Regions from separate parts of the Homo sapiens genome. Here regions 1, 2, 3, 4 and 6 are each reported to be linked to region 5. The links are microRNA targets in miRTarBase. Many come from high-throughput screens and were not tested one by one. Region 5 holds a microRNA gene; each other region holds the end of a gene's coding sequence.
Evidence for each region. Region 5 holds the annotated microRNA hsa-miR-151a-3p (CUAGACUGAAGCUCCUUGAGG, at 1,920-1,940, opposite strand). A microRNA usually pairs through its seed, bases 2 to 8, with sites in the 3' UTR of a target mRNA and lowers its output. Matches are read on the target gene's strand: a 7mer-m8 pairs with bases 2 to 8, a 7mer-A1 pairs with bases 2 to 7 and ends in A, and an 8mer does both.

Region 1 (5,000 bases), not on the chromosome of region 5:
AAAATAAACTAGTAGGTCAGTGAGTATTGCTTTAATGGTCAATTTACCTGGGAATATTGGCGCTAGAGAACAGTGATATAATTTGAGGTGTCTACAAATGTTGTCTAAAAAACCTCTCTCCTCTCATCCCATGTTTCCTCTGTTCTCTACTCTTAAAATCTAGGTATCACTGGGAAGAGTAACGCACTAGGCCCACAGGACCTTAGTATTAATATAAATGAGCTTTAGTTTTCAAATGTCATTTTTTTCTCTATAACTGGAGAAATTCCATTAATAAAAGAACCCTAGGGGATAGAGGGTAGAGGGAGCGAGAGGGGAGTAAGGGAGGACACGGACATACTTAACACTACCTAGGGCACCTAACCATCAGAAATGCATAGGCGCTTACCAAAATGAATTAATGAAGATAAAAGCATCGCTTAATGGCAGTATCTGTAATTTCCAAATAAGATTCACATCAGTGCTATCTTATTTAAAAATAAACAGATTTCCAATCCTTACACAAACATTCTCCCAATATTAGGCTTTCTTTTTCTTCCTTTTTTTTGAGACAGAGTCTTGCTCTGTCGCCCAGGCTGGAGTGAAATGGCGCCATCTCGGCTCACTGTAACCTCTGCCTCCCAGGTTCAAGTGATTCTCCTGCCTCAGCCTCCCAAGTAGCTGAGACTACAGGCACGTACACCCGGCTAATTTTTGTGTTTTTAGTAGAGACGGGATTTCGCCATGTTGACCAGGCTGGTCTCGAACTCCTGACCTTGTGATCCACCCGCCTCGGCCTCCCAAAGTGCTGGGATTACAGGCGTGAGCCACCGCACCCGGCCCAAAATTAGGCTTTCTAAAGGACTGATGGCATCCTGCTGCCAGATGCCACAGTTTATGGGGCCCATGCCTTTAGAGGAAAGAACATTGTGCAGTGCATCCCATGCTAGTTTCCTAGAATGATTTCAGTGGTAGATCACTTTCTGATTGATTTATATTTTAAAGCAAATTATTTCCAGAATCAAAAAGCTCGAGACATTAGAGGATCTTATTTAAAACAAATTTTAAGACTTTTTTTCCCATTGAGAAAAATTATAACCATGATCTAGGAGCCATTAACAAGTATTTAAAGGTAAACTTTCTTTGTGATTCAATTTTTCAATACCTTTTAAGGTCTGTTTCAAGGAATTTCTACATGGTCAAAATCCTCTTAGACTCCAACAAACCTCCTTTCTCTCTATTGGTTTAACTTCTGTTTAATAAATGTTCACTTCTCACCACCTTTAATCCTGACCTTTTTTGGGGGGGGCAGGGGGCGGTGTATCTGGGAGAAAGACAGGTATGCCATTTTGCACAATTTCTTAGAATTGTGCAGTCTGTACACACATATGCAGCAACTGCTAGGGAAAGCAAATTTTCCCTTCCTGCTTGGAGAGATGAGTTCACCTTAATGAAGCACAAACTGGCAGTTTTGTTTTCTAATCACTAATACTAACTTCAGTTAGTAAATCTTCTTGTGTTCTTTTCACTAAGTGCTTCATAGCTGTATGGCCCTGGATTGCTCCTGATATTTAAAAAAAATTAAAAACATCCACAAGTAGAACTCTTCCTCCCAGCTTTCTTGTGTCCATGGCTAGGCAATTTCTGCATATAGTTGAAAAAACATGTGCTTTAGAGTTAGAGGCCCTGATTCCAAGCCTAATAATCACACACATTGTATAGCCTTGAACAAGATATTTAGCTCCTCTGTGCCTCAGCCTTTTCATCTATAAAATGGGGACAACAATTACTTCCTCAGGGGGCTATGGTGTGGAAGAGAGGACACACATATGGAAAAGTGCTTTGCAAACTACAAAGGGCTATAGAAAAACTAAATAATTTTCATATAATGTAATATAATGTAACCTCTATTCTTCTGAGCAATGGCCAAATACGCAAAGCACCCTCAGATTACCAGAAGTAGATTATTTGCTTGTACTCCCTCCAGAACATCATCTCCAAACCCTGAGAACAACTTAGGGGTCTCCTATAAAGGGATGACCAAGTTCTAGGTTTTTCTCTAGGGAAGTTAGGCAAAGGGGTCAGCTTGAATTTCCTAGGTCTAATCTAATAAGAAGTTTTTATTTTTTTTCTAACCACTTCACAGTTCACTGTTCCTCCTAATAAGTTATATTTAACATCTGACCACCTTTCCCACCCACCTTGCTTAACCCAAAATGTCAATATCATAATAAACGAGAGCAACAGTAGTTGGCCTCTAGGAAAAAACTCCATCAAAAAGCAAGAACTAACTAGACACACCCATCTACAAAGCTGCTCATTAACCAGACAGGAAGACAATGGGAGAACTATAGCACTGCAGGGAGATGGCACATACCTCATGGCAAATGAGTGACAGGCTATGTTCACATGTAGGAGATTTTTTATTTGGGGTGAGGGAGGATTATAAATATTTCATAGGCATGAAAACTACAGATCCCAAGTAATATGATGGCTTTTCTCTTGGAACTAAAATATTTCTATCCTTTGGAAGACTATCTTTTACATTCAAGAAAAACATTTTTTAATGAGGATATGTTTTATATTAATCTATGTAAAATATATAGGGTGGCTAATGTCTAATTAGATTAATGTTTTTGGAGAATGCATCCTATGTCCCAGCTTAACGATTACTGACTTCAAAATCTATTGCTTGAATCATAGTAAGTCAAAGAGCATATAACTCTACTTTTAGACTGAGAAAGGAAAGAAAGAAACATTCGACCTCTTATAAATTTCAGCAATGTCCTCAAGAAGGACTAAAAATGACGGATGCTCACCAGAGTCCCAGCTCTAGCAATATTGCCATCTATTTTACAGTATTTTAAGCAATCCCCATATTTTTCTTTTTACAACACCATTAACTGCTGTACAAATAAATTCCAGATGATAAAATATGACATGATTTTTTTTTTACAAATAGATACAAATACAACGTCGACCAGATATGCTACATTAACTATGTACACCTTATTTCTCTAGAGGCAGGAATATTCCTTATTTTTAGACAATTTATCATTTACACTGAGACCCTGAGGAGGACCATCAGCCTCCTGCTCCCCAATGCTGCCTTCCTCCCTTAGAAGCTTATCCTGTGCTTTCAACTCATCACTGAGCAAGAATCCTGGGAGGAAAAAACCAAGCCCTTCTGAAGATCTTGGGACTTTTCTACCCCTGTTCTAGAAACAATCAAGATTATTTACTGTGATACAGCCTAGAAACAAGCTTTTCCTCAATGATGTCCTTTTGTATAGTAAAACGAATATAATCCCTGACACTGTTTTAAAAAAAATGTTTCAGGAATGGAGATGAAGTCTTCCAGCAGTCTTTTCCCCCTCCACATTCATCATCTTGTTACCACTGGCTTGGTGAATGCTTCCCCAGGAGTCTATCTGGAGGTCAAAGTGGTTTTGGGCTGCACTATGGGGTTCAGCCTTTCCATACTCCCATGTGGTTTGGTACAAAAATATACTTTACTTCAAGTCCTAATGACAGTGAACGCTTCAGATCTTCATGGGAAAACTAAGAGCAATAGATAGGCTAAGCGCATTACAAATTTGTACCTGAAAATTTCAGATGCACTATTTGCCTTTGCTTTCTCAGCAAACTCTAGCCAGGCTTTGTCTGGCCCAGGGGCTGACTCTGTCTTAGCAAGCACTGTGGTTTAACAATTCAGAACAGTTCTAGCTCCTTAGGCTTTGTAGTTATGTATGGGCGTCGTCAGGGTCAGCTGCCCATTGGGAGCCACTTCATTGCCATCATCTTCCAACAATCCCGAAACATCTGCATTGGGAATGCTGTCATGGTAGCTGCTGAAACTGATATTGTCTTCTTTCAGCTCGATGGTCCAAAAGGGGGCATTGAGTTTCCGGTTTTGGTACTCGCGGTACATATATACAGCCCCCACAAATCCCATTAGCAGCACCACAACAATGATGATGACTGTCAAAATGATGATGTTAAATTGGGTCCATGATACATCAGCTAAAGCTGAAGTGCTGTTTTCAGAAGTGCTTACTGAAAAGATAGTCTGCAGGGTTGTAGGGGTAAAAGTACTATTTATAACAGGGGTGGGCACTGATGTGGTCAAAGAGGCATTGGAAACCAAAATGGTAGAACCTTCAGGTGTTGGAAGAATAACTTCTGAAAATAAAAACAGAGAATGAAATGTAAAAGACAAAATTATCTAGTTTTGAGAAACAATAAAAGAAATACGCATGGGAGTGAATGTTGATGTAGGATGTTAACATGATATTCTGCTTTAAGGTAATGCAAGTTAAAAATAATGTTTAAAGAAATATAGTGATAAGGGTAAGAATCAGGGTCTAGAAAGCTAGATTATTACATCTATGGCTGTTTTCCAATATGTATAATATCTACATTAAAATCTTTGGGCCGGGCGTGGTGGCTCACACCTGTAATCCCAGCACTTTGGGCGGCCGAGGGTGGTGGATCACGAGGTCAGGAGTTCAAGACCAGCCTGGCCAAGATGGTGAAACCTGTCTCTACTGAAAATACAAAAAATTAGCTGGGCGTGGTGGCGGGTGCCTGTAATCCCAGCTACTCGAGAGGCTGAGGCAGAGAACTGTTTGAAGCTGGGAGGCAGAGGTTGCAGTGAGCTGAGATCATGCCACTGCACTCCAGCCTCGGTGACAGAGCGAGACTCTGTCTCAAAAAAAAAAAAAAAAAAAATCTTTGGGAAAATACCAGTGTTGGAGTTTTCCATTCTTATTTACTCTTAGATAAAATCATATAAATTCCTGCAAAGGCAGTAAATTTGTCACTACTGAGCTCTAAATCACATAGTTAAAAGTAACAGGGATATATGGCAATCATTTGAACAAAAATAAGTCTAACAAGTCTGATGGCATTTCATAAAGGTAAAATAATTATCTGCAAAGGAGGTGTAGGGAAAACTATACCTCTAGTTATGTCTGAAAAACAAATTTTAAATGTCTGAGGCTGACATCAGCCAAGAGAGA
Region 2 (4,841 bases), not on the chromosome of region 5:
GGAGTTCTTCTGACAGCATCACAAATAATTAGAGGATGCTTAAATTTTTTAAATTGACATTAATCATAGATACTTATTGGGCCATTAGAGTCTAAAAATTGGCTCTGAAAACTAAGACAAAACAAAAGAGAACTATATGTTTATTGTATAAATATTTACTCTCTTTTCTTATCTGAAATACATACTGTGGAATCATAAAATTTTATCATATATAGCCGTGCCCCATCTGCCACCCTTCCTCAGGCACCACCCACACCCTATTTTCAGATTAAAAACTGCCCATGGAAGCGAGACTTGCTTCAAGTCCTTGAATTAGTAGGTGAACCCATGACTTATGACTTGCAGTCTAGTTAATTTTCCACTACTCTTGATTGCTTCCCCCTAAATAATCAGGAAGTAGTAAGTAGGTATTTCCATTTTAAAAATAAAATGTTTATTTTCTTACAGAGGAGAAAAGCCATACTCCTGTGGCATTTGTGGCAAATCCTTCTCTGACTCCAGTGCCAAAAGGAGACACTGCATTCTACACACTGGCAAGAAGCCTTTCTCCTGCCCTGAGTGTAACTTACAGTTTGCTCGCTTAGACAACTTGAAGGCTCACTTGAAAATTCATAGCAAGGAGAAGCATGCTTCAGATGCCAGCAGCATTTCTGGCAGTAGTAATACAGAAGAGGTCAGGAATATTCTTCAGCTACAGCCATATCAACTCTCTACCTCGGGAGAGCAGGAAATTCAGCTTCTCGTAACCGATTCTGTACATAACATCAATTTCATGCCCGGTCCTAGCCAGGGAATCAGCATTGTGACTGCAGAGAGTTCCCAAAACATGACTGCAGACCAGGCTGCTAATCTTACCCTGCTCACGCAGCAGCCAGAGCAACTGCAGAATTTAATTCTTTCAGCTCAACAGGAGCAAACAGAACACATTCAGAGCCTCAATATGATTGAAAGCCAGATGGGGCCCTCACAAACAGAGCCAGTGCACGTGATCACTCTGTCCAAGGAAACACTGGAACATCTTCATGCCCATCAAGAGCAAACAGAGGAGCTCCATTTAGCTACAAGTACTTCAGATCCAGCTCAGCACCTGCAGCTGACACAGGAGCCTGGTCCGCCACCACCCACTCACCACGTGCCCCAGCCAACGCCACTTGGCCAGGAGCAGAGCTGACCTGTAAACACGTTTGACTGCTTGATTGGGCTCTTCTTATAAGCCAGCTCTGACTGGATTTTGAACGCTTGAAATCAGGCTCTCCACACCATTGACTTGCAGATGCTTCTGTGAGAGCTGTGATGGCTAACTGATGTTTATAATGCCCTCCATCCAGGTAGCAAGATGTGTGTATGTCTTGTCTAAGGTACTGATTTGTATTGAGCATTTCAATATTATTGAATGGTTTTCATTTTAATCTGCAATGTCTCATAAAGACTCGGGTAGTTTTTCTTTGGGGGCATTGATCTCAGTTTTTCTGTAAGGTTTAAATGTTCACAGCCATAGGTTATGGTCTTGCCAACCTCCCCAGTTATGTTTTTTTGTTTTCTAGGACAAAGGGAGTCATTTTGGTTGAACTGGGCAGAATGGTTTGTTCTATTTTCTTATTTTTCTTAGGCAACACAGTTGTTACCACAAGACAAGTCAGGGCTAAATATGACAGATCACAATGTATGGGGAATTTGCCCTTTTAATAATTTCCAGTCCCCTAAGACAAAGTAACCCTCAACGTTTTATCTTTATGCAGTACAGTGGGCTTATTGTGTTAACACTTCAGAAAGATTCAAACTCATAAACTCAGTATTTTAACTCAAAATTCATGTAACAAGATAGCCAAAAGCATAGGATTTCTTAAAATTCTGAATTCGTCTTTTCTGAGAAACATAAATTTACATATTTTTCAACAGAAGGCTATCAAAATTTTAATTAAGTTTAAAATACAAAATTGGATCAAGACATTCACCCTAAATTCTGAATTTTTGTCAGAAAAGAGATTTGATTTTCATGAAGGTAAAGCTTTCTTCACTATTCTGGAACATAAAACTTTATTCAGTGTAATTTAAGTCTTATATATACTCTACTGAATTCTAACTGATCTCCTGAAAATGTTGATCTACGTGTTGTGTCTGATAACTTTCTGGAGATGGAAGCTTATAATTCATTTTTATTGCAGACTAGTTAAATCCCACAAAGTGAATATCTTCTCCTAATCTTTCCTTTTTTAGAGACAGGGTCTCACTGTATCACCCAGGCCAGAGTGTAGTGGCACAATCATTGCTCACTGTAACCTCGAATTCCTGGGCTCAAGCAACCCTCCCACCTTAGCCTCCCTAGTAGCTGGGACTACAGGGATGTACCACCACACCCAGCTAATCTTCATCTAATCTTAAAACTTTGAGCCTCAGAGACTTTGTAGCCAGCATGTGTCTGTAATTGTATGATTTTTAAATCATCATCAAAAGATTAAATTATGTTTGGGTTAGGTTTTCAAGCTAAGCTTATTGAATTCTTTTACCACTTTCATGTAAGCTGGTAGGGGATTTTTGAGAAAAGAAGGTGGGCACTAGTATATCTAAATTAACAATGCTGATGGGGAGTAGGGGGTAATCTACTCTAAAATTAATAGAGCCTTTCCATCAATTGTTTTGTTTTAGACATCCTTGATTTCTCCCTAAATCAAATAAGTTATTTGGAGGTTAGAGTAATAGAGAATTCTTCAGGTTTGAGAGAAGATAAAAACATTTTGGTTGCATATTTGCTAAGCTATATTTTATTATATGTAATTCACAAAACTTCCAAAATGATATATATCTTATATGTATCAACCAAACTAATGTTAAATCAGGCCTGACTAGAGCAAAGATAACAATTTTTTACAAACACTGTTAAGCCCTAAGTATTATTTCAGGTTCTCGTTTAAACTGTTTAATTTTATTCTTAAAACACAAAGTTTTTACCAACTTTTCAAAGCCCACCAATCCACATTTTCTCCAGGAAATTAAATATTTAAGTAAGTGAGTGTTTACTCACTCTGGATAGCTAGGTGATTATTCAGAAAATACGGTTACATAGCTATTTATAAGTCAAGTTTCACTGGCTCTATAACAGTCTACCTCTACACTAAGAGAACTATAACATGAACAACATAGGTCACTTTAAATGTTCTAGTAGCAACTTTTAAAAACATAAAAAGAAGCAGGTGAAAATGTTAATAAAAGTTTATTTAATCCAACATTTGCCAAATATTTCAACATATAAAAATATATTAGTGAGACATTTTACATTCTCTTTTTCATACTAAGCTTTCGAAATCTGGTGTGTATTTTACACTTTCTGCACATCTCCATTTGGATGCTAATGTTCATTGGACATACTTGATCTGTATTTAGATTTCATACAACTTACAGTTGAAAACAGATTCTCATATCAAGTAGCTAAGACAAAAGTTTTTTTCAAGAATTGAAATAAGTATCAGTTTAAAAATTTATATTAAATTTATTAAAATTAAAATCCAGTTCCTTGTTGCATGGGACACAGTGCAAATGCTTGATAAGCACATGTGGCTAGTGGCTGCTATATTGGACAGCATGGGCCACCTGTTTCTAACTTGAGCATCAGTCCTAGCTATGCCTGAATTATTTGACCAGCTGTCAAAGAGAAACAAGGAAATGATAGCTTTGTTAATCTAGCCTCTTTCTTTGTCCCACATATACATTCTACCCCTTTGAATAAAAAAGTTCAATGACGCCGGGCGTGGAGGCTCATGCCTGTAATCCCAGCACTTTGGGAGGCCAAGGTGGGCGGATCACGAGGTCAGGAGTTCGAGGGCAGCCTGACCAACATAGTGAAACCCCATCTCTACTAAAAATACAAAAATTAGCTGGGCGTGGTGGTGTACCCCTGTAATCCCAGCTACTCGGGAGGCTGAGACAGGAGAATCACTTGAACCCAGGAGGCGGAGGCTGCAGTGAGCTGAGATCACGCCATTGCACTCAAGCCTGGCGACAGAGCGAGACTCCGTCTCAAAAAAAAAAGTTAAATGACTTGAGTACCCAAAAGAAATGTCGTGAACATGAAAGTACTTCTCATGTGTCCTTGAGAAATGATGTTGCTAGTGCAGTGTTTCACAATTCATTTTCTACTAAATGTGTACCATTTTTTAAATTGTTTTAACAGAAATATAGAGTGTGTTTCTTAGGAAATAGAATGTTATGCTTTGGGGCTCCTGAAACACCTCGTTTTGAAGGTGAATCTTTGGTTTTCTCCCAGAAGAGGGTCTGCCTTGGGATGATTGGAGCTCTTACCATCAAAATCAGTTATTCAAGTGCTTGCCCAGTGCTTCTTGAAACTCACCTCTACTCTGTATTTTCTACAGTTGGTTCTTGTGTTATAAATGTTGTGAGCAACAGATTAAATGATGCTGAGGAATGAAAAAAGATTCTCATTATAAATGCTTACCTAGGATTCTCATTATAGATGCTTATCTAGGTTTTCATAAATGGGAATGTAACAATATCTTCCAAATATGGAGTCCTTACTATTGTCCAGGAGCCAAGCCAGGTCTGTTAAATCTGTATCATATCTTACTGGGTCTCAAACATCTTCCATGTCATGGCACACAGATTTACAATATAGCACCCTCTGGTTGGAGGACTCCAGTCCCCTCTGTTCATGACTGGTATATTAGTTTGCCATGACTACCATAACAAATACCACAGACTGGGTGACTGAAAAAATAGAAAGTCCAAGATCAACGTGTCAGTGGGGTTGGTTTCTTCTGAGGCCTCCCTTCTAGTTGTCTTCCCCTGCCTGTATCTTCACATGTCCTTCCCTCTGTCTTACTCTCTTT
Region 3 (5,000 bases), not on the chromosome of region 5:
CCAGGCTCAAGCGATCCTCCCACCTCAGCCTCCCGAGTAGCTGGCACCTTGGGCATGCATCACCATACCTGGCTAATTTATGTCATTTTTCTTTTTCTCTTTTTTTTTGAGACAGAGTCTCACTGTGTCGCCCAGGCTGGAGTGCGGTGGCGCAATCTCAGTTTACTGCAACCTCTGCCTCCTGGGTTCAAGCAATTCTCCTGCCTCAGCCTCCCGAGTAGCATGCCACCATACTCGGCTAATTTCTGTATTTTTAGTAGAGACAGGTTTCACCGTGTTGGCCAGGCTGGTCTCCAACTCCCAACCTCAGGTGATCCGCCCACTTCAGCCTCCCAGAGTGCTGGGATTACAGGCGTGAGCCACTGCGCCCCACCTATTTTAGTTTTCATATAGACGGGATCTCACCATGTTGCACAGACTGGTCTTGAATTCCTGGGCTCAAGTGATTCTCCCACCTCAGCCTCCCAAAGTGCTGGGATTACAGGTGTGAATGTGCCTGGCCCTGGCCTGTTTTACATTTTTGAGATACATAGTTTAACCCAGGCAAATACATTTCTTAATCTCATGTTAGGAAAATAAGGTAATGTTTGGAGAGGTTAAATAATCTCCCCATGGACACACAGCTTGTAAGGGACAGAGCAAGGAGATAGGACAATCAAAATTGTCTCCAGACATTGCCAAATAGCCCTTTGGGAGCAAAATCGACCCCAGTTAAGAACCACTGCCCTAGACTGCTTTTAGAATTTTTTTTTCCCTCTATTCCTCTTAAAGCACTTGAGCTAAACCCTCTTTTCATTTTTCTCCCCAGGCCCTGTCTCAGCGGGACCCTCCTCACAACAACTTCTTCTTCTTCGATGGCATGAAGGGGAATGGGATTGTGGAGTGCCTTGGCCCCAAGTGAACTCAAGATTTGGCAGCCCCAGAGATGCCAACTGCAGCATGCCCACCTGTATTCCCTGTCCCCTTCCTTCATGAAGGCATCTCCAGGCAAGGAAAACTGAAGTCATTGGCCCGATACAAAACATTTCCTGCAACGAAGGAGGTGGTGCCGACGTGCTGCTTCCCATCACCAGCAGCTGCTCGACAAGGGGCGCAGGGTGGCTGTCTTTGTTCCAGCACTGTTCAGGCTGCCTGTCATCCCGGGCCTGCCAGCTCCCCTGAGTGATGAGCACTTCCAAGCACCCCTCTGCCCTTTCTCTGTCCTTATGCTGTCCCGGCCTCGCCAGCCCTCTGGGGCATTGTGGGAGATGCCTGCCAGGAATGAGCAAGCTCTGTTGCTCGGGAGCCTCTTGTCACCTTCTTGGACTTATTCCCCACCTGATACCTTATAGAGAAAAGTGTGAATTCAGGTGGAGAGTAGGCCCAGGCCCCATGAGGCACCAGTGGAAGCACAGCTCCAAGTTCAGACAGGTGCCCTTAGAGAGGAAAACCATGACAGGCAAATGCATTTCCTCTGGAGTTTGAGACCCTGACAAACAACAGGTGGCATCTGGTGTGCTGTTCTTGAGTTTTCGTTTAGGATTAGTTGAGTTCCAGCTGGGTTTTGGGAGAAAGGAGATGCTACCAAGTCTTGGATGTTAGGGCGAGACCCTGCAAGTTGAGTATTAGAGAGCTTGTCTTTCAAGGCAGGTTCCTGGGGCTTCAGGGCTAGGAGGGAGGAGCCTGCCCTTTTAACAGAACCCCAGTCACATGCGGCTCAAGTCACTCAGAGGCTGTTGCATTTCAGGGCTATGTTGGTCCTTTGTTTACCTCCTAAACCACAGCTGTTTGTGTTTCACATATGTTGTGAATTTTCCTTGGTTCTTTTTAAAGGAATGATAATAAAGTTACTTGCTTTAGGATTTGCTTGTTTTTCTTCCACTTCAGAAGCTTCTGAGAGGGAATGGGATGATCCTACCAGTTGCCTTTTCAGACCTGAGGCTCTAACTCAAGAGATTCCTCCTCTCCCTCACCATTCCTGCCACCATTTTTTCTGGGTGATGCAGCAAGAGTTAAATTGTTCACATTCTAGAATGTGTAGAAGCTTCTGGCTCCAGTTGTCTAATGGATAATTCAGCTAAATAGTGGCTATTTTCAGTGGCAAGAATTATAATAATAAAGGGAAGTCAAAAGTGATGCTTCATATGCCCCAAGTGCCACAGCCGCTACGGGTCAGAGCTTTTATTGGAAGACCAGGTTTGCCTTGATGCAGCCAAAGTGCGTTCCAGTTCACCCCACTCTTGCTTGTGTTTCTTCTTTATGTAAATTGTGTGATGTTTCAATAAATCAGTCTCTTTCCTATTCTGATCCTGCAGCAGTTAGTCGGGGAGAAAAGTGGTCTTCACTACAGAAGGGCCTCTGTTCCTCAACCCTGCATCACCTGCTCCCGCCGGAGGTGAGACAGGGGCTGCATTTCGGAAAGGATCCGTGTCTCGCCACCTTTAGTGCAAGTCAGTGGCGTCAGGGTCAGCAGTTACATTGCTGCATGAATTTCACGTGGTCTTTAAATTCTGAGCTAATTATACTCTTGACTGTAATGTGCAGCCTTGGTCACAAGGGGGAGCAGGTGGGTCTGGATTGATAAAAACAAAATTGTAGAATCGTCCCGGAAGCTTCAAACTTTTCCACCCTGTACCTCTAACGGCAGAGATTAAGTCACCCAGAGGACCCCTCAGGAATCGAGGGGAAAGCTGCCAGCCCCAGGCAAGAAATGTCTAGTTTCTACAAATTTCATAAACTGCCACATGATGTTTGTATTAATCATAAAAATGAAGAAAAAAAGGCCAGGCGTGGTGGCTCACGCCTGTAATCCCAACATTTTGGGAGGCTGAGGCGGACGAATCACGAGGTCAGGAGTTTGAGAGCAGCCAGGCCAACGTGGTGAAACCCTGTCTACTAAAATTACAAAAATTAGCCGGGCATGGTGGCGGGTGCCTGTAATCTCAGCTACTGGGGGAGGCTGAGACAGGAGAATCACTTGAACCTGGGAGGCGGAGGTCGCAATGAGCTGAGGTCGCACCACTGCACTCCAGCCCGGGTAACAGTGTGACACTCCATCTCAAAATCTGCAGTCAGTCAGGCATGGTGGGAGGCTGTGGCGGGAGAAGCACTTCAGCCCAAGAGTTCGTGACCAACTTGGGAAACAAAGCAAGACCCCATCTCCACAAAAAAAGAAATAGCTGAGCATAGTGGCTTGTGCCTGTGGTCACAGCTGCTTGGGAGACTGGGGCAGGAGGATCACTTGAGCCCAGGAGTTTGAGGCTGAAATGACCTGGATTTCACCACTGCACTGAAGCCTGGGTGAAAGAGTGAGACACTGTCTCGAAAAAAAAATCCCAGCACTTTGGGAGGCCGAGGCGGGCGGATCGCGAGGTCAGGAGTTCAACACCAGCCTGACCAACATAGTGAAACCCCGTCTCTACTAAAAAAAAAAAATACAAAAACTAGCTGGGCATGGTGGCGCGTGGCTGTAATCCAGCTACTCAGGAGGCTGAGGCAGGAGAATCGCTTGCACCTGGGAGGCGGAGGTTGCAGTGAGCCGAGATCGTGCCACTGCAGTCCAGCCTGGGCAACAGAGCGAGACTCCATCTCAAAAAAAAAAAAAAAAGTTATCTTGACGTATGTTCTATTAGCTCATTACAGGTGTGGAAGAGATGGCTTAGGTTGCAGGTGGTAAGTTTAATGATAACAACCAATGGTCATTATACCCATGCAACCTGCCTGGTACTTTTCAGAATCCTTGTTCTTTGAGTTGGAATCCCCACAGCAACCCCATGGGGATAGATGCTGTTCTCCTACCCATACTGGAGATAAGGAAACAGGCTCACCTCACAAGCAAGGGAGAGATGGAAATGGCGCTGACTGGGAAAGCTGCGGTGCGGGGCACTCAGTAGAGATTCATGTAGTGGCACGGCTTGTTCGCTCAGTGAGAACAAGATTTTGGGCTTCCCTTCACAAGTCCCTGAGACCCAGTAGTCACTGGAAAACATCATGTCGGCCTTCATAAAAGAGGGCCTTCAACTAGGTCCAAAAGGGTGGGTGGATTTGGTTCCTAAGCTTGTACGATATTCAAGCAATATACAAGCATAAAGAGAAGATTCCTCTCCGCTGCAGGGCACAGCCTGTCAGCACAATGTTGGCCACATAATAAGAGCAGCTGACTTCACAGCTAAACTGCATTTTGGAGAGAAATATGAGATGCTTTTTGGACATGTTAGCTGTATCCACTTTCTTTTTTTCTTTTTCTTTTTTCTTTTTTTTTTTTTTAATAGACGGAGTCTTGCTCTGTCACCCAGGCTAGAGTGCAGTGGTGTGATCTCGGCTCACTGCAACCTCCACCTCCTGGTTTCAAGCAATTCTCCTGCCTCAGCCTCCCAAGTAGCTGGGATTACAGGCCCCGGCCACCATGCCCAGCTAATTTTTGTACTTTTAGTAGACAGGGTTTCACCATGTTGGCCTGGCTGCTCTCGAACTCCTGACCTGAAGTAATCCACCTGCCTCAGCACCCAAAATGCTGGGATTATAGGTGTAAGCCACAGCGCCCAGCCTAGCTTTATCCACTTTCATATCCACTCCCCGGAGGTCACCCCTGTTAACTGTTGAGAGTGAATCCTTCCAGACTGCCATGTTCAAACCTAGACTCTACCACTCAGCCATGTGACCCTCGCTACACTACTTTCTGTTACCCCATCCCTAAAATGGGTAGAATAGTGGCACATTCCTCAGATATGTGGGGATTAAAAAATCAGTCTTTGAATCAATATTGCTCAATGTTAGCTGCTATTTTACATATTCATAAATAACTTTTTCTCCAATGTGCTTTTTTCTCAATATGTCTTGGAGATCCTTGTCAGTATTTCATGCATCAAATTCCATAACCAAAACAGGTGAACCATTAACTATTGAATCAGTCTGCTGCTGTGTGACATTGTGCACACTTAGGAAAGACTTCCCAAAGCCAAGTTCCAGGGTTAGCAAGTATAAAAATGCATTTTAGGAGTTGGTTCTTGTTTTTTATTTTG
Region 4 (4,671 bases), not on the chromosome of region 5:
GGCAGGTGAAGGAGTGTGACGCTGGGCCACTCTCCAACATTCCTGGGATGTCCATTTCACAGACGAAGGAACAGGGTTGGGGGGCTGTGGGGAGTTACACAAATCCATGATGGTCATTATTGGACCTGAGCAGGGGGCAGGGGAGGGTGGACAGTCCTTAACTGCTCTGCAGGTCCAGGATGTTAGAAAGGGGCAGGGACAACAAATGGGTGACCCCAACCTCAACCTGCTGCTTCTCTCTCCAGTCCCCATGTGAGAGCAGCAGAGGCGGTCTTCAACATCCTGCCAGCCCCACACAGCTACAGCTTTCTTGCTCCCTTCAGCCCCCAGCCCCTCCCCCATCTCCCACCCTGTACCTCATCCCATGAGACCCTGGTGCCTGGCTCTTTCGTCACCCTTGGACAAGACAAACCAAGTCGGAACAGCAGATAACAATGCAGCAAGGCCCTGCTGCCCAATCTCCATCTGTCAACAGGGGCGTGAGGTCCCAGGAAGTGGCCAAAAGCTAGACAGATCCCCGTTCCTGACATCACAGCAGCCTCCAACACAAGGCTCCAAGACCTAGGCTCATGGACGAGATGGGAAGGCACAGGGAGAAGGGATAACCCTACACCCAGACCCCAGGCTGGACATGCTGACTGTCCTCTCCCCTCCAGCCTTTGGCCTTGGCTTTTCTAGCCTATTTACCTGCAGGCTGAGCCACTCTCTTCCCTTTCCCCAGCATCACTCCCCAAGGAAGAGCCAATGTTTTCCACCCATAATCCTTTCTGCCGACCCCTAGTTCCCTCTGCTCAGCCAAGCTTGTTATCAGCTTTCAGGGCCATGGTTCACATTAGAATAAAAGGTAGTAATTAGAACACTCTGGCTCCTGGCTCTTCTGTTGAGATCCAGTTCATTTATCCTAAAGAGGTAACTAAAGACGCTAAATCCAGTCACTGAGGTGGGAGAACGCAGCCCAAGTAACCCACAGAGATGCCTGCGGGGCCAGGCAGGCCTGGGGGGGGGCTTGTAGTCTTTGGACACAGACATACTTGATTACATGTTTAACACACACGAACACTCTACTTCCAAAAAGAAATAGGCTCTTGCCTAGTTTAAGCACAAGCTCTTCTTGGTACAGCTTTCATTTTCCTATGTCCCCAATTTCATTTCTATACTAAGAACAGTGTGAATGTGATGACAGATGGCAACCGACATAGGGCCTCCGTGTCAGGATGGACAGGAAGTAGGGGACTGTGGAGAACTGGGTGCCCATGCCTTACCTAAGGGGCTGACTGCTACTCAGCTCTATCTGGTTGCTGCCAGGAGGAAGCACAGCCCCCGTTGCCAGATGTTATCTTTTTAAGAGGAGCCAGAAATCAAGAACTGCAGTGAAATCACCCCATTTTTAAGTTTAAAGTCTTGCTGTGGGTCAACAAGGCCCAATGAGGACACTACTCTGTAGTTCTGTTCTAGAGCAACATGCTTGAGAGGAGAGAGGCCAGATGGTGGAGGGTCTGGCCCCGGGCCCCGAGTCAAGGGTGCAGCTGGATGCCAACCTGGGTCTCCGACACCTCCAGCCATGCATTCCTTTTCTGCACTGCCTCTGGCTGTTTCCAGCATGAGGCTAAAAGCTCTGGAGACCATCTCCAGGACCCCTGGTGTTCCACATGGCTCTGGGCCCAGGGAAGTGGGCTTCTGCATTTCCAGGCTGGAGCAGCAGACCACCTCCTTTGCTATCCCTCCCCTCCCTCAGTCCACACCCAAGACATCATCCTGTCTTTCATGTTCATCCACTTCTTGCCCTCACCACCACAGAACCATGGTGAGCTCGATTTGAGGGGCAACTCACTTCCGATTTTCCTAGACCTGCTGTGCCTGCCACAGCTGTTCACCAGGCACCTCCAGGGAGCCTGCCCCTAGCTCGAGGCCTAACTCGAGGATTCTCAGCCCCTTCCATTTCTTGTCTTTGGGTATTTACATGACTTACTCTGGCAACAGGAAATCAACCATGACCATCCTTTAGTTCCATCCTTTAGTTTAGATGCCACCTCATCCAGGAAGCCTTCCCCACCAATTCGGCACTCAGGCACTTCACTGCTCACTGCCTGTCCCACTAACCACGGTCACCCATAGCCTCAACATGCAGGCAAGAGGGAATCCCGAGTGTCGGCGAGACAGTCCCTTCCAAGAAACATGTGCCCCAGATGCACTGGGAGCTTGCACCCTTCCTCCAAGTCTTTTATTTTTTTTTTGAGTTATTAAAAAAAAAACAAAAAACACAACCAAAAGAACTGACGAGAGGAAGACAAAGCCTCGGGATCAGCCAGAGACCGAGCGGCACGGGATGAGGCACAGGTCAGGCCTAGCTGGATCTGTGGAGCAAGGTGGTGGGAAGTCCCGAGGCCTTTGGGCATGTGGGGTCTGTGGAAGGAGAGGAGGTCACTTAAAAAAATACATATACTGTACACATCTATATGAAGCGTCCTGTGTTGGGGGAGTGGGGTGAGGTCATGGGAGCTGGTCCACTTTCTCCTTGGACCAGCCTCCCCGCAGGCTCACTGGCTTGGCCAGCACAGGGACCCCTGAAGCTGGCTGTCTTCTTCTGTGGAGCGAGGGAAGGTAACAGTTTAGTTCCAACCCATGGTGGGCAGAGGTCGGTGGAGGTCAGAGGCATGGGGATGGCCACTGCTCGGCTAGGAAATCCCTAGGGGAAGGAAACACATGCAGATGTCAAATTTCCTGACCCTTTTCCCCTGCAAGGAAAATGAAATCTGGCATCTCCAATGCAGGGGGGAGGCATTAACCACAGTGGACATTTTTTAGCACTTGGAATGTTCTGAGAACTGGGCTGAGTCCTTTAGTGTTTAGTTTAGCTTCACATAAGCCTCACCACTGGCCCAGGAGGCGGGCTCTGCATCACCCCCATTTACAGGAGGCTGGGTGACCACAGGGCCAGCAGAGCCAGGTGGAGCAGCTAACTGTCACCACCACTTGGCAGGGCCTGTCCTCCATAGGGAAGCATAGATCCATGGTGATAGCTCATCTTGAGTAAACCATCTTCCTTCCCAAAAGGAAATGCCCCCAAGTTACAGGATCATGAGGAAAATGAACCGCTCACAAGTGAAGGAGGAACCAAGCTGTATCCGACCTCACCTACAAACAGGCTCCATCCCAGGGCACACCCCCTAAAGCATGCACAACCCCTGCACCCAGGTGCACTCGGTGTCACCACTGCCATTACTGTTCTGGATCCTTCTGATGCTGCAGTGCCAGCTCCTGATGTCACCCCAGTGGCCCCATGGACCCTTGGCAACAGAACCTCTTTCCCCAGCCTCCTTTCCCCTTAGAGCCCACCTATCAGGTCTGCCTGGCTCTCTGGGACCACAGGGGACACCAGAGCTGTCCTCCCACCCTGAATGCTCAGGAATGATTGGGAAGCGTACCTGTGCCTGGTGCTGGTGCTCGTCATACAGTCTGCTCTGCTGTCTTCTTCTGTGAGGAGGGAAGTACGAGAGGCTCTCAGACCTGCAGCTTTTCCCCACCCACTGCTGCCCCCACCTCCTGAGGACTAGTGAATTCCCCTAGAATAGATACTGGGTCTGCAGCGACCTCCAAGGGCAGAGGCAAACAGATGTTCAGCTCTCCTAAATACAGCTGAGGCCCTGCTGGCCAAGGTGAGAACTTCATCTGTGTCTGAGGTGCTAAGGCCCCGCGCCGTGAGGACAGCTGTTGTTCAGGGCTAGCCTGCCAGCTGGGGCACACGCAGCCCAGGCAACGTTTCCTTTCACCTGGAAACCTGCCACAGTCTACCTGGTTTCCCTGTGCTGGGGGGAGTCTCTCCTTCCTTCCCCAACACCCTTCTACCTCCGGCAGGCCACTTCTACGGCTTCCATGTGCTCAGGGAACATGCCCTGCCAGCCTCTTCCCTGGTGTGTCACAACCCCTGACGCCCCCGACTGGGCCCCGAAAATGGGAAGGGGGCAGGAACCAGGTCTGGGTGTGTAGGAGGGGGCTTGGGTTTGGGTCTGTTTTCTGGCCTGAGACACCCCAGGAACTCTCTACCTTTTTCTTCTTTTTCTTCTGGGACGGTGACTCAGAATCTTTGGTTGAGGCCTTTTTTGCTTTCTTCTTCTTTTCTTTTTTTTCTTTGTCTTTTTTTCCTAAGGGAAGTAAAGTAAAGTTCCTGAACAACAGATGGTAATCCTAAGTGCTGGGGTCAATGTTGGGAGGTGCACAGGGCAGGGCTCCCAGCTTTCCCCACACCACCAGAAGCCATCACAACAGGCCAGCAGGGCGGGGCGTGGAGGTTCATTCCTGCAATCCCAGCACTTTGGGAGGCTGAGGCGGGTGGATTGCTTAAGCCCAGGAGTTCAAGACCAGCTTGGGCAACATAGTGAGACCTGTCTCTACAAAAAATACAAAAATTAGCTGGGGATGGTGGTGCACGCCTGTGGTCCCAGCTATTTGGGGGGCTGAAGCAAGAGGATCGCTTGAGCTTGGGAGGCTGAGCCTGCAGTGAGCTGCGTTCCTGACACTGAACTCCAGCCTGGGTGACAGAGCAAGACCCTGTCTCAAAAAATAAAAATAAAACAGGCTGGCAGCTGTGGTGATCACCCAGCAGGGCCAGTTCACCTGCCCCCTGGAGGCCAGCTCATGATTTCTGTCCCATCCATGGACCACCTGGATGAC
Region 5 (4,000 bases):
AATCATAACACAAAATTTTAAAGTGATAATTGTGTTTACTGCCCTAATTTGCCTAAAATATATTTAAGAATTTTAACATTAACCTAAAATATTTTTCTAATATGAGATAAAGCTGATGTTCTTTTTTAAAATAGTGGTACCAACACCTTAGTCAAGAAGAGTACTGTTGGGACATATTATTTTTGAACATACCTGCAAAAAGGCAAATAATAAAGCTGTTTATTATGGTTTCCCTGTCATAGTACCTAACAAAGAATTAACTGAAGTAACCAGGAATTAAATTAAACCCCCCCCCCCCTTTTTTTTTTGAGACAAAGTCTCACTCTTGTCTCCCGGGCTGGAGTGCAATGGCGCAATACCGGCTCACTGCAACCTCTGCCTCCCCAGGTTCAAGCGACTCTCTTGCCTCAGCCTCTTGAATACCTGGGATTACAGGTGCCTGCCACCACGCCGGGCTAATTTTTGTATTTTTAGTAGAGACGGGGTTTCACCATGTTGGCCAGGTTTGTCTCGAGCTCCTGACCTCAGGTGATCCACCTGCCTCGGCCTCCCAAACTGCTGGGATTACAGGCTTGAGCCACTGCGCCCGGCTAAATGATTTTTCACTCAAAAAATATTTGGTGCGCTCTTATAACCTGACAGTCATAAAGCACAAAAATGCTAGAGTACGCATTATAAGAAAATTTCACTGTTGATCAATTGAAAGTATTCCTATTGAGGAATTTTTTATACTTGATAATAGGCCACTGGCAGGTTAATCTCATTCTACTTCTCAATGAATTCATACCTATGAATAAGTAAACAGGATGTAGGAAGGACAGGTTCCTTGAGTCACAGACATCACCTCATCAAAGTAGGACCAAGGTGATTTTCCTATGAGTTTGCCCAACATGTTCCATACCAAAAATCACTTCTCAACTAATATAGTCAAAAACAAATATACAAGGCTGGGCATGGTGGCTCATGCCTGTAATCTCAGTACTTTGAAAGGCCAAGGTGGGTGGATTGCTTGAGCTCAGGAGTTTGAGACCAGCCTGGGCAACATGGCAAAACCCCATCTCTACCAAAAATACAAAAAATTAGCTGGGTGTGGTGGTGTGGTGTGCATGCCTGTAGTCCCAGCTACTCAGGAGGCTAAGGTGGGAGAATCACTTGAGCATGGGAGGTGGAGGTTGCAGGCAGCAGAGATGGTGCCACCGCACTCTAGCCTGGGCAACAGAGGAGACCCCGCCTCAACAAAATAAAATACACACGCATACACTCCAGTTAAAGATGAGGGGAATCCCACAGTAATTTGAGTCTACTTGCAAATATTCTTTCAAGGTAGGGAAGGAGAATTCTTTCGAGGTCAAGAAGAAGAATGGGATTTGGGAAACATTTTTAACTACCATAATTTTAACGACCAAAGGGCTATCCAAACTTATTATTTCTTTGTTAAAATCTTGGAAATAATAAAAATTTTGAAAAAAATTAATAACCTATTTAGTTATTGTGATACACTGTTATATGCAAATGTCCAAGTAAGCAATTATATTATATAGTGACATTTTATAATATAAAATGGTGGCCTATTTGGTAGCCTAATTGTATATGTTCAAAACGCAAAGTTAAACACCATTTCTAAAACAGAACAATGCAGAATGAATGAATGCTCAACTACCTGTGCTAGTAGTATATAAGAAGATATCCATAAATTATACTACAGGTACCTATTTAAAGTAATTATATGTAGTTCTAAAAATATGTATTGGATACTTTTTGGAGATAATTTACCTCAGTGGAGCATTCCTTAGTATTAAGAATCACTCATATGTTCTAAGCCTTGAATTCAGTGCCTGGGTGACTCTTCCTGTATCTAGCTAGCTAGGCTACTGGCCTGGAGGTTTGGGCAACACCGAGGTGAGTATGACCATCCCTGTCCTCAAGGAGCTTCAGTCTAGTAGGGGATGAGACATACTAGACTGTGAGCTCCTCGAGGGCAGGAAAAGTGTTTTAGTCATCTTTGCCCCAGTGACTAGCACCAGGCTCAGCTACTGTAGGTGCTCAACAGTGTTTATCGAACTGAATTGAACACGGGTTGCAGCCATCTATAGCAGCATAGGGTAAGCCTGACAAGAAGAACAAAGAGCTTTGGAGACTCAGAGGGTGAAGGCTAGTCAGCTGTGAAGTCACAGAAGACCCAGTGCGTGAAAGAAGCCGAGAAAGATGGGTAAGATCTCCCCAAATGAAGAAGGAGGCATTCTGGGCTGACAGGAGGGTTAGTTTAGCTACTGTGTGTGAAAGGGATGAGAAGACAATCTCAGGCCATAATGAAATGAGGCCTAAATGTTACTGTGGAAGCCTTTACCCAAACATAAAAGGTGACAAAACCCCACTGAAAGTTGTTTTGACCAGGGGAGTTATTTTTCCAGTGACATTTCAGGAAGATTGACTAAGCTGGTCATGCCAGACAGATGGGAAAAGAGCGTGGGATGGAGGGTGGGGGGCAGGCACAAGGAGTGAAGCATGACTCCAAGATGGTGCCGAAGATAAAGGCACTATTCCAACCTGGAGGAAGTGAGGAGGAAGGGCTGGCATAGAAGAGAATGTAACAGCTTGCTTTCTGGATAAACATGATGCCCAGCCAGCAATTTAAAATGTAGGTTTGGGACTTGAGAAAAGGGCAGGACCAGAACTATAGACAGACAGAGGTAAGCAGCAAAGCCATGTGAATGGGTCAGACATCCTGGGAAGAGTAATGAGAGAAAATGGGAGAAAATAAGAGGCTGAAAACAGAAATTTGGTTAATATTCATGGTAAAGGTGGAGAGATGGCAAGTCAATGAGGTAGAAAGAGATGCCAGGGAGGTGGGGTGATAGAACTGGTATCAGAGAGGAACAATGCCAAGGACAGAATCTGTCAAATCCTGAGGAAAGATCAAGGAGGAACAAATAGGAGCAAAACAACATGCAATAAAGCATGTCCAAAAGCCAGCTGTAAAGGTGAGAGAATAGGCAGTTAAGTTATATGAGAATTAATTAAGGAACTGAAGATTTTTGGCTTGAAGAAACTAAGAGGAGGTAAGGAAGCTGTTTAGAATTACCCTGAAGGCCTATCGTGTGAAAGGCAGAGTAGGGTTGTTCTATGGGGCCTTGAAAAGTAGAACCAGGCCGGTGTGTGAGAGTTATGGGGACGGAGACCAAGAGCGTGGCTGGTCTTTCCAATGTGGGGCTCACTGTATTGTAATAACCAGTGATACCTCGGTCTCCTCCACCAGACTTTAAACTCTCTGGGGGCAGGGATTGGGTCTTGTTCACTGTTGGACCCACAGAACCTAGCTTAGAATAACAAAGGTGCTTAGCAAACATTTTCAGACTGGATGAATCCTTTGTGCTTCTACCTATAGGTCTTAATTCTTCTTTGAAATACTCTCCTTAAAAGGAATCCTGTCTAGCAGGTTGAACAGCTTGAACATGTGGTGAGAAGGCTGGGCTAGATGGTGAAAGGCCTGGACCCTGCAGTTGATGATTTTTAGGAAAAAGACTAAAATACAGCATGAAAAACAAACCCATAAAAACTCACATAAAATGGAGGAAGTCCCCAAGTGTGAAAACAGGTGACACAGCACACACTGAACCATGGTATTGTTTATATAATAAAGCTTCTCATGCCTATGTGTTATATTACAGTATCTTGTTTATTACAGTATTAAGTCTCATTCTAGACTCCAATTCAATTCAATTCAACAAATGTTTATTGAGCACTTATATGGTGCCAGGTTCTAAGCTTGGCATTGGGGCTACAGAAATCAGTAAGACACAATGATGCCCGTCAAGAGCTCTGAGTGTAGCTGGGGACATGCACAAGCGAACAAGAACCTCTCCAGGCCAGGCAACAGGGTAGAGTATGCACATGCTTCTCTGAGGGATTCAGCACACTAATGTCCCTGCGTGCTTCCTCCAGGGGTTTAACAGTACCTGGCACAAAGTAGTAGCCACAAAATGGCACCTGAACAAGCAAT
Region 6 (5,000 bases), not on the chromosome of region 5:
AAATCCCAGGAAATTGACACTGGTACACTGTGTTATCACATCAATAGATTTGTGTAACCTCCATTGCAAGCAAGATACACATCCATTTTAAAAAATATATCCATTGTAATGTAAAAGCTCTGAAGACAGGGTAAAAATAATAATTAAAACTGGACTACTGAAGTTGAATGTAGCTATCTGTTCCCAAGTTTCACAGAATGCTAGTTGAAGAATTAAATTTTGAATCTTATGTGGATGCAAAATACCAATGGCAGGAATGCAGATTTTTTAACGTGTATTCTGAAAGTTAACTGTGCCAGTGATGAATCCAACCAGCAAATTAATGGCTTCTGTCAGTGTACTTGGGCCTTTGGCCGTAGTGATTTCTGAGAAGACACTGGATAAGCAGGAGGACCATAGTAGGGCCAGGCTTCAGGCAGCACAGGTGGGTGGCAGTGCAGCAGCTTTGGGGCTGATGTGGCTGCACCAGCACAGCCTTCCTTGGTGCCTCTGCAGTGGTGGCCGGAGGGGCGCCATGCCTGGGGGGCTCTCCCACATCAGAGGCAGGCCTCCAGACTTGTCCTTGGAAATGCCAAGATGTAAAAATAAACCCAGCACTTCATCCTGAGTTCTCTTCCCTCCGCTCAATAGGGTGGCATGAAATGGATGCAGAGAACCCATTACATCAGCCCAGCCCATCCTTAAATAAGCTGGTAGCAGAGAACAAGTTCGGCAAGAAGACTGGAGAAGGATTTTACAAATACAAGTGATGTGCAGCTTCTCCGGCTCTGAGAAGAACACCTGAGAGCGCTTTCCAGCCAGTGCCCCGAGTGCCTGTGGGAATGCTCTTTGGTCAGACATTCCCTCACACAGTACAGTTTAATAAATGTGCATTTTGATTGTAATCTATCGAAGTGATTATTACACCAGTTACAGCAGTAATAGATTCTCCATTAAGAAATAATTCCCTTTTTTAGTCTGTTCATTTCTGTGTATTTTCTAAACAGCTTTACACCCTTGGTGCCTTGGAGCAAACATGTTTTTTGAACCTTGTCATTTTTGTGAAGAATTGCCTAGATTCCTTCTCTCATCAACGGGAAAGTACTTCCTCTGAGAGTGCGAGTGCACCATGCTCACTGTTGCTGCGTGGGAGAGTCACAAGCCACTGGCAAGCAAGTGGTATAGTCTGTGAAGCACTGCAGCGAGCAGCACCTGGATCTTGCCTTTATAAGAACATTTTACTACCTGCAGCTTTGAGTCTTGCCCTACATTTTGGGCATGACATAAGATGTGTCTTTATTCAGCTCGTCGTGAAGATGCTGCTGCTGAATGGGTCAGCATATCTCTGTTTGCATGGTTTGCAGGAGGTCGGTTTTCATGGTCATTCAGTTCCACAGATCTGAATGATTACTGTCTGTCTGTGTCTTTTTTCCATGAGAAATCACTGTTGCAAATTGCCTATAAATTGACTCTACTAAAATAACAATGTTTCAGTCTGAAAATTTGAATTGAAAAAAATGTATAATATAAAATTGTAATACACTCAAATGATTATAAAAGTAAAAGTTGGTAATTTAGGCAGAAGCTATTTCTCCTCTTCTTTGACCTGCTGTTAATTTTTAAAGTGGGAGTGACGGGGAGGGAATGGCAGGACAAGGCATTTGTGTAAAACCTGCCTGGGGCCGTCGCTGCCAGATTTCTTACCAGGAAAGCAGTAATAAGGGCACAGAGAACAATTTTTAAGGAACATCTGTTTCTTCTTTGCCAACAAAGTGAAGTAGTGTAACGTAAGCTTCTTTTAATCATTGGCTTAAGAAAGTGTCTTCCAAGATAGAATTTTGGAGTTGGAAAGACATCAGAAATCCTGAGGTCCAATAGCCTCATTAGCAGAAAGCTTAAGGGATGTGCCCAAAGTCACTAGATATTTTGTCACATAGCCTAGACTAGAACTAGGTTTTGATAAAATTAAGTACAAAATAGCCCATTTGAAAATCTCCGATCCAAAATTTCAGACAGGACTCTCCCTAAAATGGGCATCCTTGTTTGGTGTTCTGGGTCATAGGTCTAATAGTCAAGAGATTTTTTTTCTTCATTTTATGACTGATAAAAGGGAGCTTATTAATTTTAAAAATTTTGAATCTATAACATAGTGGGAAAATAAATACATCGGTGCATTTGTACCGCACATAGAACCTGGGTAGGACACTTTTAGGTTATTCTTATAAAATGCTGCCTAACGAACCAAAGGAAGCACCTGTGAGGCCACCCGCATTTCCATCGCTAAAGGTTACCCTTGTGGTCTGACAGCTCCCTGCTCTCTCAGGCTGGCTCTTGACCTTTGGCATGAGCCCTGGGCCTAAGTGGGGGCTTCACTTCCTTACTGTCTCACCAGAGTCCCCATAGGATGCAGGCCCTTGTCCTGGAAATGGCAGGGTTCTTTCTTGACCACTGAATTCCAGGAAAGATGTAACTCAGCAATGCAACTATCAGACTGCCGGGATGAGAAGGTAGGGGCTGCAGCAGTCTTTCTGGCTGGCATTTTAAAATACACTTTAAGCCTACCAAATAGTCAAAAGGCCTAGCCTCTCAATATCCTTTTATCGTTTTCAAAAAATATTTTCCATGCACCGTGTTTGGGACCAGGAAGGAATTTTGAACATCCTTCCTTTAGACATGGGAGGTGAGGGAGTAGCTTTTTCTTTCCCAACTCCATGTCTCTGCGTTCTCAGGTGAACGTAGCTGCTTGCCACGGAGAGCTCTTGGGGCGGGGGGAGGGAAGGTCATGTCAGTCAGGTTCTCTGCTTCCAAATATAGGCCCGCTGCTGCTGTTTGCTTCAGTCTGTGGTTAAGAACTGAGCCTCAGTGAGAGCCCCAGGTGCCTTGCATCATCCTCCACTGTGTTTTGGCAGCACTTGTTCAAGAGGGAGGGTGGGTCCTGGCAGTGCTGCTGGGCCTGGTGTCACTGCTCTTGGTTCTCCTCACCTCCCCAAACTTGCCTCCTAACCGTCATGAATCTTTTATGACACTTGAAAGTAAAGACCAAGTTTTAGGTCAAGAGGATACTTTTTTTTTTTTTTGAGATGGAGTCTTGCTCTGTCGCCCAGTCTGGAGTGCAGTGTTACAATCTTGGCTCACTGCAACCTCCACCTGCCAGGTTCAAGCAATTCTCCTGCCTCAGCCTCCCGAATAGGTGGGACTACAGGCGTGTGCCATCATGCCTGGCTAATTTTTTATAGTTTTAATAGAGACGGGGTTTCACCATTGCTGGCCAGTTTGGTCTTGAACTCCTGACCTCATGATTTGCCTGCCTCAGCCTCCCAAAGTGCTGGGATTACAGGCGTGAGCCACCGTACTTGGCCACTTTTTTTCCTCTCTCCTATGCTTCCCCTTAGTGATATTTTTATTTATTTATTTGTTTTTTGAGACGGAGTCTCGCTCTGTCGCCTAGGCTGAAGTGCAGTGGCGCAATCTCAGCTCACTGCAACCTCCGCCTCCTGAGTTCAAGCGATTCTCCTGCCTCAGCCTCCCGAGTAGCTGAGATTACAGGCATACATCACCACGCCCAGCTAATTTTTATATTTTTAGTAGAGACGGGGTTTCACCACGTTGGTCAGGCTGGTCTCAAACTCCTGACCTCGTGACCCACCCACCTCAGCCTCCTGAAGTGCTGGGATTACAGGCGTGGGCTACTGCACCCGGCCAGTGATATTTTTATTTACCTATAATACAAGTGAAAGTTTGAGATTAAGAAGAAAACCAGGCAACTTATGAGATGACTTGCTGAAAAAGATGGTGAGCCTCTGATAGCCATCACCTAGACTTCAATTCTGTTTAGTAAAATGGAGTTCTCTGAAGGATCGTTTTAACTCAAGATATCTTTGTAAAATGAAAATCATGGCCCTTTCATGTTCTTAAGATTCACTGTTAATAGTAGTTTTTCTGGGGAAAATGGTTAACTTTTTCTGACATCAATTGTAAAGCGTATTTCCACTTTGGGAACTTCAATGACACAGCGTGGGGGTAGGTGGAACCATGTCTTGGAACTCGGAAACTACTATGAACAAATCCGGTGTTAGAAAATACTCTCAGCTGGGTGCAGTGGCTCATGCCTGTAATCCCAGCACTTTGGGAGGCCGAGGGGGGCAGATCATGAGGTCAGGAGTTTGAGACCAGCCTGGTCAACATAGTGAAACCCTGTCTCTACTGAAAATACAAAAAATTAGCCAGGCGTTGTGGCGGGCACCTGTAATCCCAGCTACTCAGAAGGCTGAGGCAGGAGAATCGCTTGAACCCAGGAGGCAGAGGTTGCAGTGAGCTGAGATGGCACCATGGCACTCCAGCCTGGACAACAGAGCAAGACTCTGTCTCAAAAATAAGAAAAAAAAAAAAAAAAAAAGAAAATGACTCTCCACTGGGTTCCGTTAATAGTAAGTGTTTTGACTAACACATCAGCTTTCAGAAACCCATTTGAGATTCAACTAGTCATCATTGGAGAGGTTACAGCCACTATGTTAGTCACAGCTTATACAACAACATACACTAATTATGCTTTCTTTGTGAGTTATACCGTTCACATATTTGAAACAAGCTTTTGTCTTGTCCCCACCTTGATTTTAATCCCTTTAACATTTCAACCTAAGTAACTCATTAAGTCTACCAAAAGTATAAGGTGTGGCTATAATTTTATGAGACTAATTTTCTTATAAACAGGCATTGATGCTACATAAATAGTAATCGAAAAAATGCTTTGAACAATGAAATCATGGCTGTGCTTTCAGTACTATACTTTGAAAGAATCCATTTGGCTGTGTAAATTCTATTTTTTAAATTGGTCTCACTGTTTCATCATCACAGTTTTAATGTCTATTTTAGCATTTTTTTTCTTGCTACCATTTGACATGGCATAACAGACTTTAACTCCTGAAAGACAGAGAACCCTGTCATTGATACTGATGTTATTCAATGTTTTAGTGAAAATCACCAACTGTAGTTGCTGCTACAGGATTAACCAGCACAACTAC

Region 1: the mRNA of MEGF9 is a reported target of hsa-miR-151a-3p. Seed matches in the 3' UTR shown: 8mer at 2,710-2,717 and 7mer-A1 at 1,190-1,196.
Region 2: the mRNA of ZBTB24 is a reported target of hsa-miR-151a-3p. Seed matches in the 3' UTR shown: 7mer-m8 at 3,098-3,104.
Region 3: the mRNA of SAE1 is a reported target of hsa-miR-151a-3p. The part of its 3' UTR that is shown has no 7-base or 8-base seed match.
Region 4: the mRNA of TCOF1 is a reported target of hsa-miR-151a-3p. The part of its 3' UTR that is shown has no 7-base or 8-base seed match.
Region 6: miRTarBase lists HADH as a target of hsa-miR-151a-3p. The part of its 3' UTR that is shown has no 7-base or 8-base seed match.

Annotation. Positions count from the first base shown.
Region 1 is chr9:120,601,481-120,606,480 of GRCh38, forward strand. MEGF9 (multiple EGF like domains 9) reads right to left here. Exons shown (of 6, transcript NM_001080497.3): 6 at 1-4,161. The coding sequence ends at 3,710. Among named protein-coding and RNA genes, the nearest start is that of CDK5RAP2, 24 kb to the left of the region's middle.
Region 2 is chr6:109,462,181-109,467,021 of GRCh38, reverse strand. It overlaps ZBTB24 (zinc finger and BTB domain containing 24), which reads left to right. Exons shown (of 7, transcript NM_014797.3): 7 at 448-4,428. The coding sequence ends at 1,171. It also overlaps a transcript of MICAL1 not described here. Among named protein-coding and RNA genes, the nearest start is that of MICAL1, 8.8 kb to the right of the region's middle.
Region 3 is chr19:47,208,351-47,213,350 of GRCh38, forward strand. SAE1 (SUMO1 activating enzyme subunit 1) reads left to right here. Exons shown (of 9, transcript NM_005500.3): 9 at 809-2,286. The coding sequence ends at 901. Among named protein-coding and RNA genes, the nearest start is that of MIR3190, 16 kb to the right of the region's middle. RefSeq lists enhancers at 641-1,390, 2,382-2,676.
Region 4 is chr5:150,397,825-150,402,495 of GRCh38, reverse strand. It overlaps TCOF1 (treacle ribosome biogenesis factor 1), which reads right to left. Exons shown (of 27, transcript NM_001371623.1): 25 at 4,045-4,142; 26 at 3,426-3,474; 27 at 2,203-2,686. The coding sequence ends at 3,448. CD74 (CD74 molecule) reads left to right here. Exons shown (of 9, transcript NM_001025159.3): 9 at 246-857. The coding sequence ends at 256. Among named protein-coding and RNA genes, the nearest start is that of CD74, 13 kb to the left of the region's middle. RefSeq lists enhancers at 378-647, 2,208-2,287, 2,358-2,447, 3,008-3,077, 3,358-3,517 and 1 more.
Region 5 is chr8:140,730,668-140,734,667 of GRCh38, forward strand. It overlaps MIR151A (microRNA 151a), which reads right to left and starts at 1,986; the gene lies at 1,897-1,986. All of the region lies in intron 25 of PTK2 (protein tyrosine kinase 2), which reads right to left.
Region 6 is chr4:108,033,609-108,038,608 of GRCh38, forward strand. HADH (hydroxyacyl-CoA dehydrogenase) reads left to right here. Exons shown (of 8, transcript NM_005327.7): 8 at 631-1,563. The coding sequence ends at 749. Among named protein-coding and RNA genes, the nearest start is that of HADH, 46 kb to the left of the region's middle.